Linked DNA regions of Homo sapiens: region 1 is linked to region 2. Evidence: fine-mapped expression QTL. A gene starts in region 2. The other region holds a variant in brackets. All regions are shown on one strand. Distances are from middle to middle.

Region 1 (5,327 bases), 20 kb before region 2:
CTGGTTGCAGAGTGGCCATTCTTAAGAACAGACAAGAAAAAGCTGCCTGGGCAAGGTGGCAACAAAATCCTAGAGAAAGCAGTTAATCTGTGCTTTTCCAAACGTTGTGCTTATCTATCTACAGTTTAGTACTTTTTAAAAAACCTTTTGGAAAGTAATCATAAGCATGTGGAAGTCCCCAACTTTCAAACACAACTATGAGGATCCCTTTTGTAAATCAAGCAAATATTCATTCAATAAAATCTACTTTTTATTTTTGAAGATGAATTTTATATATGTTGAAATGACTTACTTCAGGAAACATGTGCCTAAACTTTCTAAGGTAAGTCTGATACTTGAAACAGAGGTTTTCAGTACAAACATTAAAAAGCCATTATGGAAGTGAGGCTGCATGCCAATTCAGTCAGCTTGAGTTAATGAAAAATAAATATTTGTCAGAAAATATTGCTAAAATGATTTGTGTCTTAAGATACGAACCATACCACCAAAATCGCCAAAAGGCACAAGAGAACAACTCGTTGCCTGGAAAAATAATATCCAATTCATTTGATTATGACATTTATTATATAGAAGTTTCTCAATTTACCAATTAAATGTTTACTGAATTTCAAATTGCTACATTTCAATTGCTGAGATTCATCTTTATAGAAACCCCTGAGGGCTTGTTATCTTAGAACTATCATTCATGAGGCTGAAAAAGCAAAAGAAATAAAAGAGGCAAAAAAGAAAATGGTTACAATATATAAATATCCTGTTTTTTTTTTAATTTTTAGTTGAGTATGTTTGTAACCTCTAGCTTTGCTCTAAGGCAAGACATATGAAAATATATTTCAGTTGTAAGGCTTTTGAGATACAAGCAAAGGTTAATCTAAGCTTTGAAGGTCCATACGTAACCATATAGAAGATCAGTGTTTCCTGGTCCAATAAAGACAATCCTTTGTAGCTTTTGATACTATTTTCAAGTATTAAAACAATGAGTATGGGAGAGAAAGGATATTTCCTTGCCTGTTCTAATTTCAGATATCAGAGGAAGTTATAAGGTGAGAAATGTATACATAAATATAAAAAATAATGGTTTAAGTTTTGCTTCTAATATATGCTTCTATGGACCTAACAGTTTTGGTAGCACAGTGAAATTCCATATAGCTGACAAGTCACTGTTCAGGATTCACCTTTCCAAAGGTCCCCCCTTTTATATAATAGTGATTTCTAGAACAAGAATATTAGTCATATCCTATCATTATAGATATATACTTCTGTAATACTTTTCTTCAAATTCCTACAGGGCCTTCTCACTAACTGTCTTAAAAAAAAGAACTTACAGTCAAAGAATCTTCACCATCATTATGTCCTCTACGATTATGAGCTCTCCCTCTACCATCAGAGATACTGAGCAAGTCTCTTCCAAAGGGTTCAGAAAAACTTCTTATCATCTGTCGCATATTTTCTCGGTGTGCAAGAATGGACTCACTGTTGAAAATATACATAATCATGAAAGATTCAGTGTTGGAGTTTAAATAGTAAGTAGGCAGGTAAATATTACAAATAATTATTTTGGGCTAATATGTTTGTTAGATAAAAGAAGAGTAGAAGAGAACTCTATTTTATTCATAAATAGAATAGAATTATCTCATAAAGATCCATTATTAGATGGTTCCCTACTTACAATGGTTTAAGTTAAGGTTTTTTGACTTTACTGTGGTATGAAAGCACTCCACATTCAGGAGAAACAGTACTTCAATGATCCATACAGCCATGCTGGTTTTCACTTTCAGTATAGTATTCAATAAATTACATGAGACATTCAACACTTTATAATAAAGTAGGCTTTATGTTAGATGATGTTGCCCAACTGTAAACTAATGTGTATGTTCTGATGATACTCGGTAGGTTAAGTGTATTAAATGCATTTTGATGTATAATATTTTCAATTTGCGATGGGTTCATTGGAATGTAATCTTATCGTTAAGTTGAGAAGCATCTGTAGTTATAAATAAAATTAATGAAAACCTGTTACTGTTATCCAATATAATTCATTTAATGCATAATAAAAAAA[AC/C]ATCTTTATTTATCCCATATTGCATAAAAATACCAACACTATAATCTGATATTTACCCTTTCATCACAAGTCTCATTAAAGAACCTAAATTTTTTTTTTTTACCTTATCACAGTGGTTTCCCAACTTTGTTCCAGTTGGACAGTTACTGACCCACTAATCAATTCCTTATTCCTCGTTCTAGAACTTAAGGTACACCATGATTGGAGCTCACTTTACCAAGGCAATCTTATGCTTTCCTGCAGCCCAGTGGAACTCCCTCTCCAATAGTCTGGCCTCCTTTCAGATTCTCCACTTCAGTTATTCTTCTTAGGTCACCCTTCCCCCTTCTAATTCCAATCCTCTGATGTCATCATAAAGAAGCTAGAAAGTTTTTAAAATTTTTTCTTGGCCAGGCGTGGTGCCTCATGCCTGTAATCCCCGCACTTTGGGAGGCTGAGTCAGGTGGATTGCTTGAGGTCGGGAGTTCAAGACCAGCCTGGCCAACATGGTAAAACCCCATCTCTACTAAAAATACAAAAATTAGCCGGGTGTGGTGACGTACGCCTATAATCCCAGCTACTCCGGAGGCTGAGGCAGGAGAATTGCTTGAACCCGGGAGGCAGAAGTTGCAGTGAGCCAAGATTGCACCATTGCACTCCAGACGGGGTGACAGAGCCAGACTCTGTCTCAAAAAAAAAAAAAAAAAAGAAATTTTCCTTGCAACTCCAGCTCAAAGGAGGAAGCTCAAAGGAGGAAGCTCAAAAATTCTGTCTTCTGCTCATAAGTCCAAGTAGAAAGAGCTTTTCCTCTGAATTTCATAGTATTTGTATACATAAACCTATTCCAAAAGAGCTCAGATTTATTCACACATTACCTTGGAGGTTAAAAAAAGCATAATTGTTCCAAGTGTGAGTTTAAGATTAGCAAACTGCTTAACTGGATTTGTGCTTGTATGTATAGACAGATGTTTTCATTCAGCCTTGTTTAGGCATAATTTACATTCAACGAAATTTACCAATTTTGTTGTACAGTTTGATGAATTTTAAAAAGTGCAGTCATAACCTCCACCATAATTAAGATGTAGAACATTTCTATCATTCCAAAAAGCTTCCTCGTCTCTTTGCAGATAATTACCTGCTCCTAGCCCTAGTTACCATGAATAGGCTTTCTGTCATTATAGTTTGGTCTTCTCCAGATTTCATATAATGGAATCACATAGTATGTCATCTTTTGTGTCTAGCTTCTTTCCCTTAGCATAATGCTTCTTTGATTCATCCATGTTGTTCTCTATTTCAGTTCATTCAGTTTTATTGCTAAGTTCATACATATATCAGTATCATAATCACAAAACTGTTTTTAGTTTTTGGCTATTATGAATAAAGCTACTATGAATATTTATGTACTAGTCTTTGTGTATACATAATTTGACTTAAGTAAACACCTCAGAGCAAGGACTGATGGCTTGTATTAGAAGAGTATGTAAATTTTATGAAAACTGTAACTGAGAGTTCCAGTTGCACTGCATTCTTGGTGAAATATAGGATAGTCAATGTTTAACTGTAGCCATTTGAGTGGTAGGGTCATAACATCTCATTGTAGTTTTATTTTGTATTATTTGTCATTCATGTATGTTCTTTGATAGAACCGTCTTTTCAAATACTTCCCCCATTTTTAAAAATCAGGTTATAAGAGTTCTTTATATATTCTGGACACAGACTTTTATCAGATACAGGTTTTAAATTTTTTCCCAGTCTTGGACTTGCCTTTTTCATTCTCTTAACATGAATATATTCAGCCACACAACCATGAATCTTTGTTAGGTCTTCAGTTTTTACCACATTTTGCTAATGTGTATAAGGATTTTGAGATGGGAAGATTATCCTGGATTATCCCAGTGGGCCCAATGTAATCACAAGGGTCCTTATGAGAAGGAGATAGTAGTGTCATAATCAGAAGATGCTACACTGCTGGCTTTAAAAATGGAGGAAGAGGCCAGAAGCCAAGGAACACAGCAGTATCTAGACGCTAGAAAAGACAAGGAAACAGATTCACCCCCATAAACTCCAGAAGGAATGTAGCCCTGCCAACACCTTGATTTTAGCCCAGGGAAACCCATTTTGGACTTCTGATCTCCACCATAAGATGATTTGTTGTTTTAAGTCTCTAAATATGTGGTAATTTGTTATAGAAGCAATAGGAAACTAATACAAGTTTTTTAATTTTAATTTTAAAATATACAAAAGTCTCACTCCTCTTTTAGAGTATAAGTTCTTCTAGAGTAGGAACTGTATCTTTATTCATTCATATTACCAACCTCTGTGCTTGACACACAGTATACATTATAAATGTTTATGGAGGGCTGGGCGCGGTGGCTCATGCCTGTAATCCCAGCACTTTGGGAGGCCGAGGTGGGTGGATCACGAAGTCAAGAGCTTGAGAAGAGCCTGGCCAACATGGTGAAACCCCGTTTCTACTAAAAGTACAAAAATTAGCTGGGTGTGGTGGTAGGTGCCTGTAATCCCAGCTACTCTGGAGGCTGAGGCAGGAGAATCACTTAAACCCGGGAAGTGGAGGTTGTGATGAGCCAAGATCATGCCATTGCACTCCAGCCTAGGCAATAGGGTGAGACTCCGTCTCAAAATAAAATAAAAAAAAATACAAAAATTCAAAATAAATAAATAAATAAATAATGTTTATGGAATTTGAACCATCCTATATATCAGATGGTCCCCCTACCATTTCTTGGCAAAATTACTAACTATTCTTAATTAAAGGCTCTGCTCACCTTGGTGCTTGCTACACAGAGAAAAATCTCCACTGCAACCAATGCCTGCAGTCTTGAAGTTCCTCCTTAGTGACTTTGGATTTTAGGGGAGGGGAAACTCCTATTTAAACTATACTTGGTTTTCTCTGGCCCAAGTATTTTAGTACATGGGACTTACATGTCCTGATGATAGTTCCAAGGGCTTCTTGTGCTTCAGTTTCAGCTGCTGCAGAGTAAGACCACCTGTATGTCTGAGAAACAACATCCTCAAATGAGGTTTGTTTATGCCATAGAAGCTTATGTCTTAATTGAGGCCATCCTGAATGTGGTCTCAAAATTTTGCGAATATCTATAAATATCTGTTTTTTATGATGCAGAAACACACGTATAAACTTTTTGTAGATTTGTAGTTCATTTTCCTGTCTTTAGATGAAAGCAACAAAACTGATGACTTAGAATGAGGGCAGTTTTTTTCTGCTTTTTTTTTTTTTTTTTTTTTTTTGAGACGGAGTCTCGCTCTCTTGCC
Region 2 (5,386 bases):
CACCCCCCACAGATATTGTTTGAAAAATATGTGCAATAAACTCTTATTTTAAGACCTTTTTAAAAAATGCTCTCCAAATTGCAAACCTAGAAAATTTAAGGGATCAAAATAAACTAGACTTGAAATCAAAATTCAAACTGGCAAAAAACACTTAGGCTAAAAAGTATTACAAATTTCCCCTCTTAGGGATACAACTAGACTATGTCAATGTGTTTGTAACAATGGCCAAAGTTAGAATTAAGGAAAAAAAATCCCACAACTCAAAAATAAATAATAGTGAAACCAATTTCTGGATGCCTTCTTTCTAGGGCATCACATTACTTCACTGGGAACCTTCAAAGGCAACGAATGGCACTTGCTTACCTGAGGTGTTAAATACACACCCCCCCCCCCCCGCCGCCCTCCTCCCGCCCCCCTCCCCCCGCCCCGCCCCATCAGCTTCCCTGTCCTATTTCTAGTTTTGACAGAAAGCGGAGTCCCTTCACAAACAAGGTTAGCTCTGTAACAAAGCGAGCAAAGAAAACAGCGCAATTGGCATGGCAACTTCCAACAACTTCGAAGAGAAAGCACAACTCTCCAACTTTGTCGTGCTCTCATTGACACATTCCCCACTCACATGGAAAATGCTGTTTTAAAAACTTCCCCTTTTCAATGAACTGTCATGCTATAAAATATTACCTGTTCCTATTTGGAATTTAAAGAGGAGCTATAAAATATTCCCTGCTCCCATTTGCAATTATGTGAACATAATTCTCACCATAAGTTTCACCGAGATGGTAGTTATGTCACCTGCAAAGCCCTTGAAGCTGCAAAGGCCAACTCTGCACACAGGAAGCCATGACGGGCACCCAAAGTCCGGCCAAATGGAAAGCAGCAGGCACCCCGGGAGTGTGAGGAAGGGCCTTCTTTCCATCTCATGCAGCCAAATCCTCCTCCCCCTACCTGGGGCCCTCAACTCTCTACCTCACGTCCTCAACCATCCTCCTGCGACCTCACGCCCCCAAACCCTCCTCCCCCCACTGCACGCCATCAACTCTCCTCTGTCCACCTCACACCCTCAACCCTCCTACCCCCACACCTCATGCCCCTAAACCCTCTTCCCCACACCTCATGCCCCCAAACCCTCCTCCCTCCACCTCACGCCCCAACCCTCCCTCGTCCCACTACCTCTCACCCTCAAACCTCTTCCCCCTACCTCACGCCCTCAACCCTCCTCCCACATCATGCTCTCAAGCCCTTCCCACCAACTCACGCCCTCAACCCTTCTCCCCAACCCTCCTCCCACACCTCATGCCCCCAAATCCTCCTCAGCCCCTAAATCCTCCTCCATCCACCTCACACCCTCAACCCTCTTACCGCCACCTCACGCTCCCAAACCATCCCCACCAACTCATGCCCTCAATCCTCCCCTGCACTTCATACTCCCAAACCCTCCCCACCAACTCACGCCCTCAACCCTCGTCCCTGCACTTCAAGCTCTTAACTCTCCCCTGCACCTCATGCTCCCAAACCGTCCCCCCACCTCACGCCCTCAACCCTCCTCCCCCCACCTCGCGGTCCAAAACCCTCCTTCCCCTCACCTCACACCCTCAACCCTCCCCCACACCTCATGCTCCCAAATCCTCCTCCCACCTCACGTCCTCAACCCTCCTCCTACACCTCACACCTTCAACTCTCCCCCACACCTCATGCTCCCAAACCCTCCCCCCACCTCACGCCCTCAACCCTCCTCCAAACGCCTCACACCCCCAAATCCTCCTTCGTCCATCTCACACCCTCAACCCTCCCCCCTCCACCTTACTCCCCCAAACCCTCCTCCTCCCACCCCACGCTCCCAAACCCTCCCCCCACCTCACAGCCTCAACCCTCCTCCCCCCACCTCACGCTTTCAAACCCTTCCCCCACCTCACGCCCTCAACCCTTCCCCTCACCTCACGCCCTCAACCCTTCCCCTCACCTCACGCCCTCAACCCTTCCCCTCACCTCACACCCTCAACCCTTCCCCTCACCTCACGCCCTCAACCCTCCTCCCTCCCACCTCATGCTCCCAAACCCTTCCCTCACCTCACGCCCTCAACCTCTTCTCCCCACCTCATGCCCTCAATTCTCCTCCCCCCACCTCCCGGCCTCAACTCTTCTCCCCCCACTCCCAGCCTTAACTCTCCTCCCCACACCTCACGCCCCCAAACTTCCCTCCGCCTACCTCACGCGTCCAAACCCTCCTCTCTCCACCTCATGCGCCCAAATCCGTCTCTTCCCTGTCTCACACACCCCTAAATCCTCCTCTCTCTTCCCTCCCAGGCCTCCAAATCCTCGTCTCCTTCAAACCGCCTCCAGAGTTACTCCGAATTCTCTCTCGCCCTCTAAAACTCGCTCTTTTCCCTTAAAATAGCTCCCCTCGATACCTTAATTCCCGCGCGACCCCGGACTCCTGGCTCCCGTAACTCACGAGAAGAAGGGGTCATCCTCAAAACTGCTGTTCAGCATCCTGAACATTCTGGCTCTGTCTTGGGTGGCGGCAGCCGCGGACAGATTGGAAAAACGATGTTAACTCGCCGCGGCCGCGACAAGAGCTAGCCTCCAGTACGGACGACGCCTCACTCGCCGCGGCGCAGGCGGTGCCCGCCGGGATAGGAGGTGCGTGACACCGAGCTGCTTTCCCATTGGACATTGCTCTGTGACGTCACCAGGACGAGGCGGGGAGCAATGCGCCGCTGCCCTGGCAACCGCAATCAACACAGTGGAGGCGAGAAGTCTGGCCTTGCGCCGGCCGGGGAGCTTTTCGCCAAGGCTCCTGTGGGATGGGATAGCTTGTTCTCTGGGCTGCAGGAACCAAAACATTAGACCACCCTTTCTGTGACCTTGGGCATGCCGCCCTCGGTTCCGAGCCGCAAGTCTTTCTTTCGGGGAAAATGAAAAGGGGTCAAGATTTGGACCAGATGACACCCAATGTCCCATTCAACGGTCGCATTCTGTCATCCACAGGAATTAGTCCTGTATCCGAAACATTCTCTGGTAGTCAAAAGCTGTGAGCAAATAATAAGAAAAAATGTGCAAAACGTTTTTTAGTACAGTTAGCAAATAGTGTACTCAGTTGTTGAAGGAAATGGGATGAAGCCTATCAGATTTCAACAAACTTATTTACCTCTTGAGAAAGCTGCTCTCTTTTCGGTTGTCCTTCTGTGTCTCTCTTTCAAAGATCAAGTCTCACTGCGATGCTGATATGTTTTTAACACTTCTCCAGCATTTCTTAACCTAACAGCAGGTTTCAGGCACAGGCCTGCAGCAAGCAGCCATATCCAACTAAAATTCCACTACTATATGTTTTTATTTGCATTACATTTATCAGGGAGCTTTCTATTTATGGCAAGGAAACTGATTTTAAATTTAAATCAGTGATATACATCAAGAGCTAGATTTTGCATTTTTAAGTGAAAAAGTAAGCTATCAAATAGAACAGGTGGAATTTGGATATGGTGGGGCGGAGGGGTAGGCAGAGCAGGGGAGAGGAACATCGTGATAGTGGTACTCAAATTACTAAGTTTTAGAAAACACTATCACGGGGCCTTTCAGGAGCCTGGAGACAGATGGAGGGGAAGACAGAAGAGAGATTAAGGAGAAGAATGGTAAGAGTATAAGAAAAGAGAAAATACATCTTGCATGTCCACCCTTAATTCAGTGAGCTCCCCAGCTTCTCTACGTGGCTGTCTTGCAGAGATAAAGGGGCGTCCATAGCTCATCAGGGCCCCCTGGGATCAGGCCAGAGGGGTGGCACTTTGCCAGCATGAAGAAGTGTGCAAGCCCTGATTTGGAGGTGACAGGAGTAGTCAGGGGTTATTTTGAGAGCTGGAAATTTAATCGTTTGGATCTTTTACTCCCCATCCCCCTTTTTTAGCCAAGTTCTCTGGCAGCTTCCTTCCCCTGAGACTGGTGGCATGGGGTAGGGCAGACTTCACAGCCCAAGATGAGATGGCACAGCCCATCCAGGAAAGAGGATATTTTCTTTTCCTCTGGACTCAGAATAAAGCTCAGAGAACATATACACAAAATTTCGAAAATTTCTAAATAAATTTCAAGGCAAACAAAATTGTTTTATAAGACCTTAAATTGTTTTTCTCTTTAAAATAGTATAAGCACAAGATGTGAAGGAGGCCACACTTAAAAAAAAACTTGAAATGGAGTAAGTTATGTGATAAAAGATGGTGTTAAAATAGTTCTGGATTAAGGCCAAGTAAATTTGTAATGTTACCCTCTAGTTTCTGTGGGAACTTTTTTAGAATCACATTGTTATAAAAGCTTTAGTCCAGGCACAGGTTAGTCAGGGAATTAGCTGAACCTTGTGAAAGCAGTTTGGATCTAATGACAAATGCAAAAAAAAAAAAAAAGGAGGGCAGAGCAGAGTTGGCACTGAAGAGACCTTGACATCATTTTCAGAACTGATGGGTAAGAGGTGGAAATGAAAGAAAGCGTGGGTCAGGAGAGAATGAATACTCCAGCATGGGAGGAATAGAGATGCAGAACAGGACTGAGAGGAGAGGGTCCTGGACTTGGCTGTAAATATAATCATAATAGCTAATATTTATTGAATGTGTGCCAGGCACTGTTGTAGGCACTCCATATGCATTACCTCATTGAATCCTCATTAGCAGTTTTATGGAGTAGAGATGGCTTTTATCCCCATGTATAGATGATGCATTCAAGACACAGAGAAGCTGAATAAATTGCCAAGGTTCACACAGCTAGTAATTGAACTGAGCTGGGTACCTGGAGCTTTCCTCTGTGAGTGCTGGTTATATGGTATGTGAGTGATGAGTCATACTTAAAGATGCAGGATGAAAGCGGGTAATCATTTTTCAAAATCATGCTGACAAGCTAAATGGACCCAAACTAAAAAGTACAAAATTCAGTGGGAATATATTCACATCACATAAATTCAATTCTACAAATATTTATTGAGTGACTACCCAGTGTTGGGGACTGATCTACGACCTTAGGCATCATTGAACAAAACGGACAAAAATCTCTGCCTTCCCGGAGTTTATGTTCTTGTAAGGACAGACTCAAAATAAACAAAATAGAAAATAGTATATTGTAAGGTGATAAGTGTTAGGGAGAAAAGCTGATCAGGGTAAGGAGTATGGAGAGGTGCAATTATAAATAGCAAGTTTTGTGTACGCCTCACTAAGGGGAATTTGAGCAAAGACCCACAGGAAGGAAGTGGATGTCTAGTGGAAAAGCATTCCAGGGCAGTGCTAAAGTAGCATTTGCCTGGTGTATATAATGTACAGTCCTACTCATATGCCTTAAAACTCACCTTCTGAGTGAGGAATGAGATGAGCCAAGTAAACTGAAAATTGCCTAATAGGGTAATAGCTCTCATTTACAC

What was found. PIP is the estimated chance that this variant, and not a neighbour inherited with it, causes the effect.
Region 1: its variant is the best candidate, but not a certain one, in a credible set for the expression of MLF1-DT in testis (GTEx, PIP 0.71).

What each region holds. Positions count from the first base shown.
Region 1 is chr3:158,588,577-158,593,903 of GRCh38, reverse strand. MLF1 (myeloid leukemia factor 1) reads right to left here. Exons shown (of 8, transcript NM_001369783.1): 2 at 1,323-1,470; 3 at 478-522. Among named protein-coding and RNA genes, the nearest start is that of MLF1, 20 kb to the right of the region's middle. The variant AC/C (reference allele first, on the strand shown) is at 2,057.
Region 2 is chr3:158,568,411-158,573,796 of GRCh38, reverse strand. It overlaps MLF1-DT (MLF1 divergent transcript), which reads left to right and starts at 2,731. Exons shown (of 5, transcript NR_104147.1): 1 at 2,731-3,626. It overlaps MLF1 (myeloid leukemia factor 1), which reads right to left and starts at 2,603. Exons shown (of 8, transcript NM_001369783.1): 1 at 2,450-2,603. The coding sequence starts at 2,496.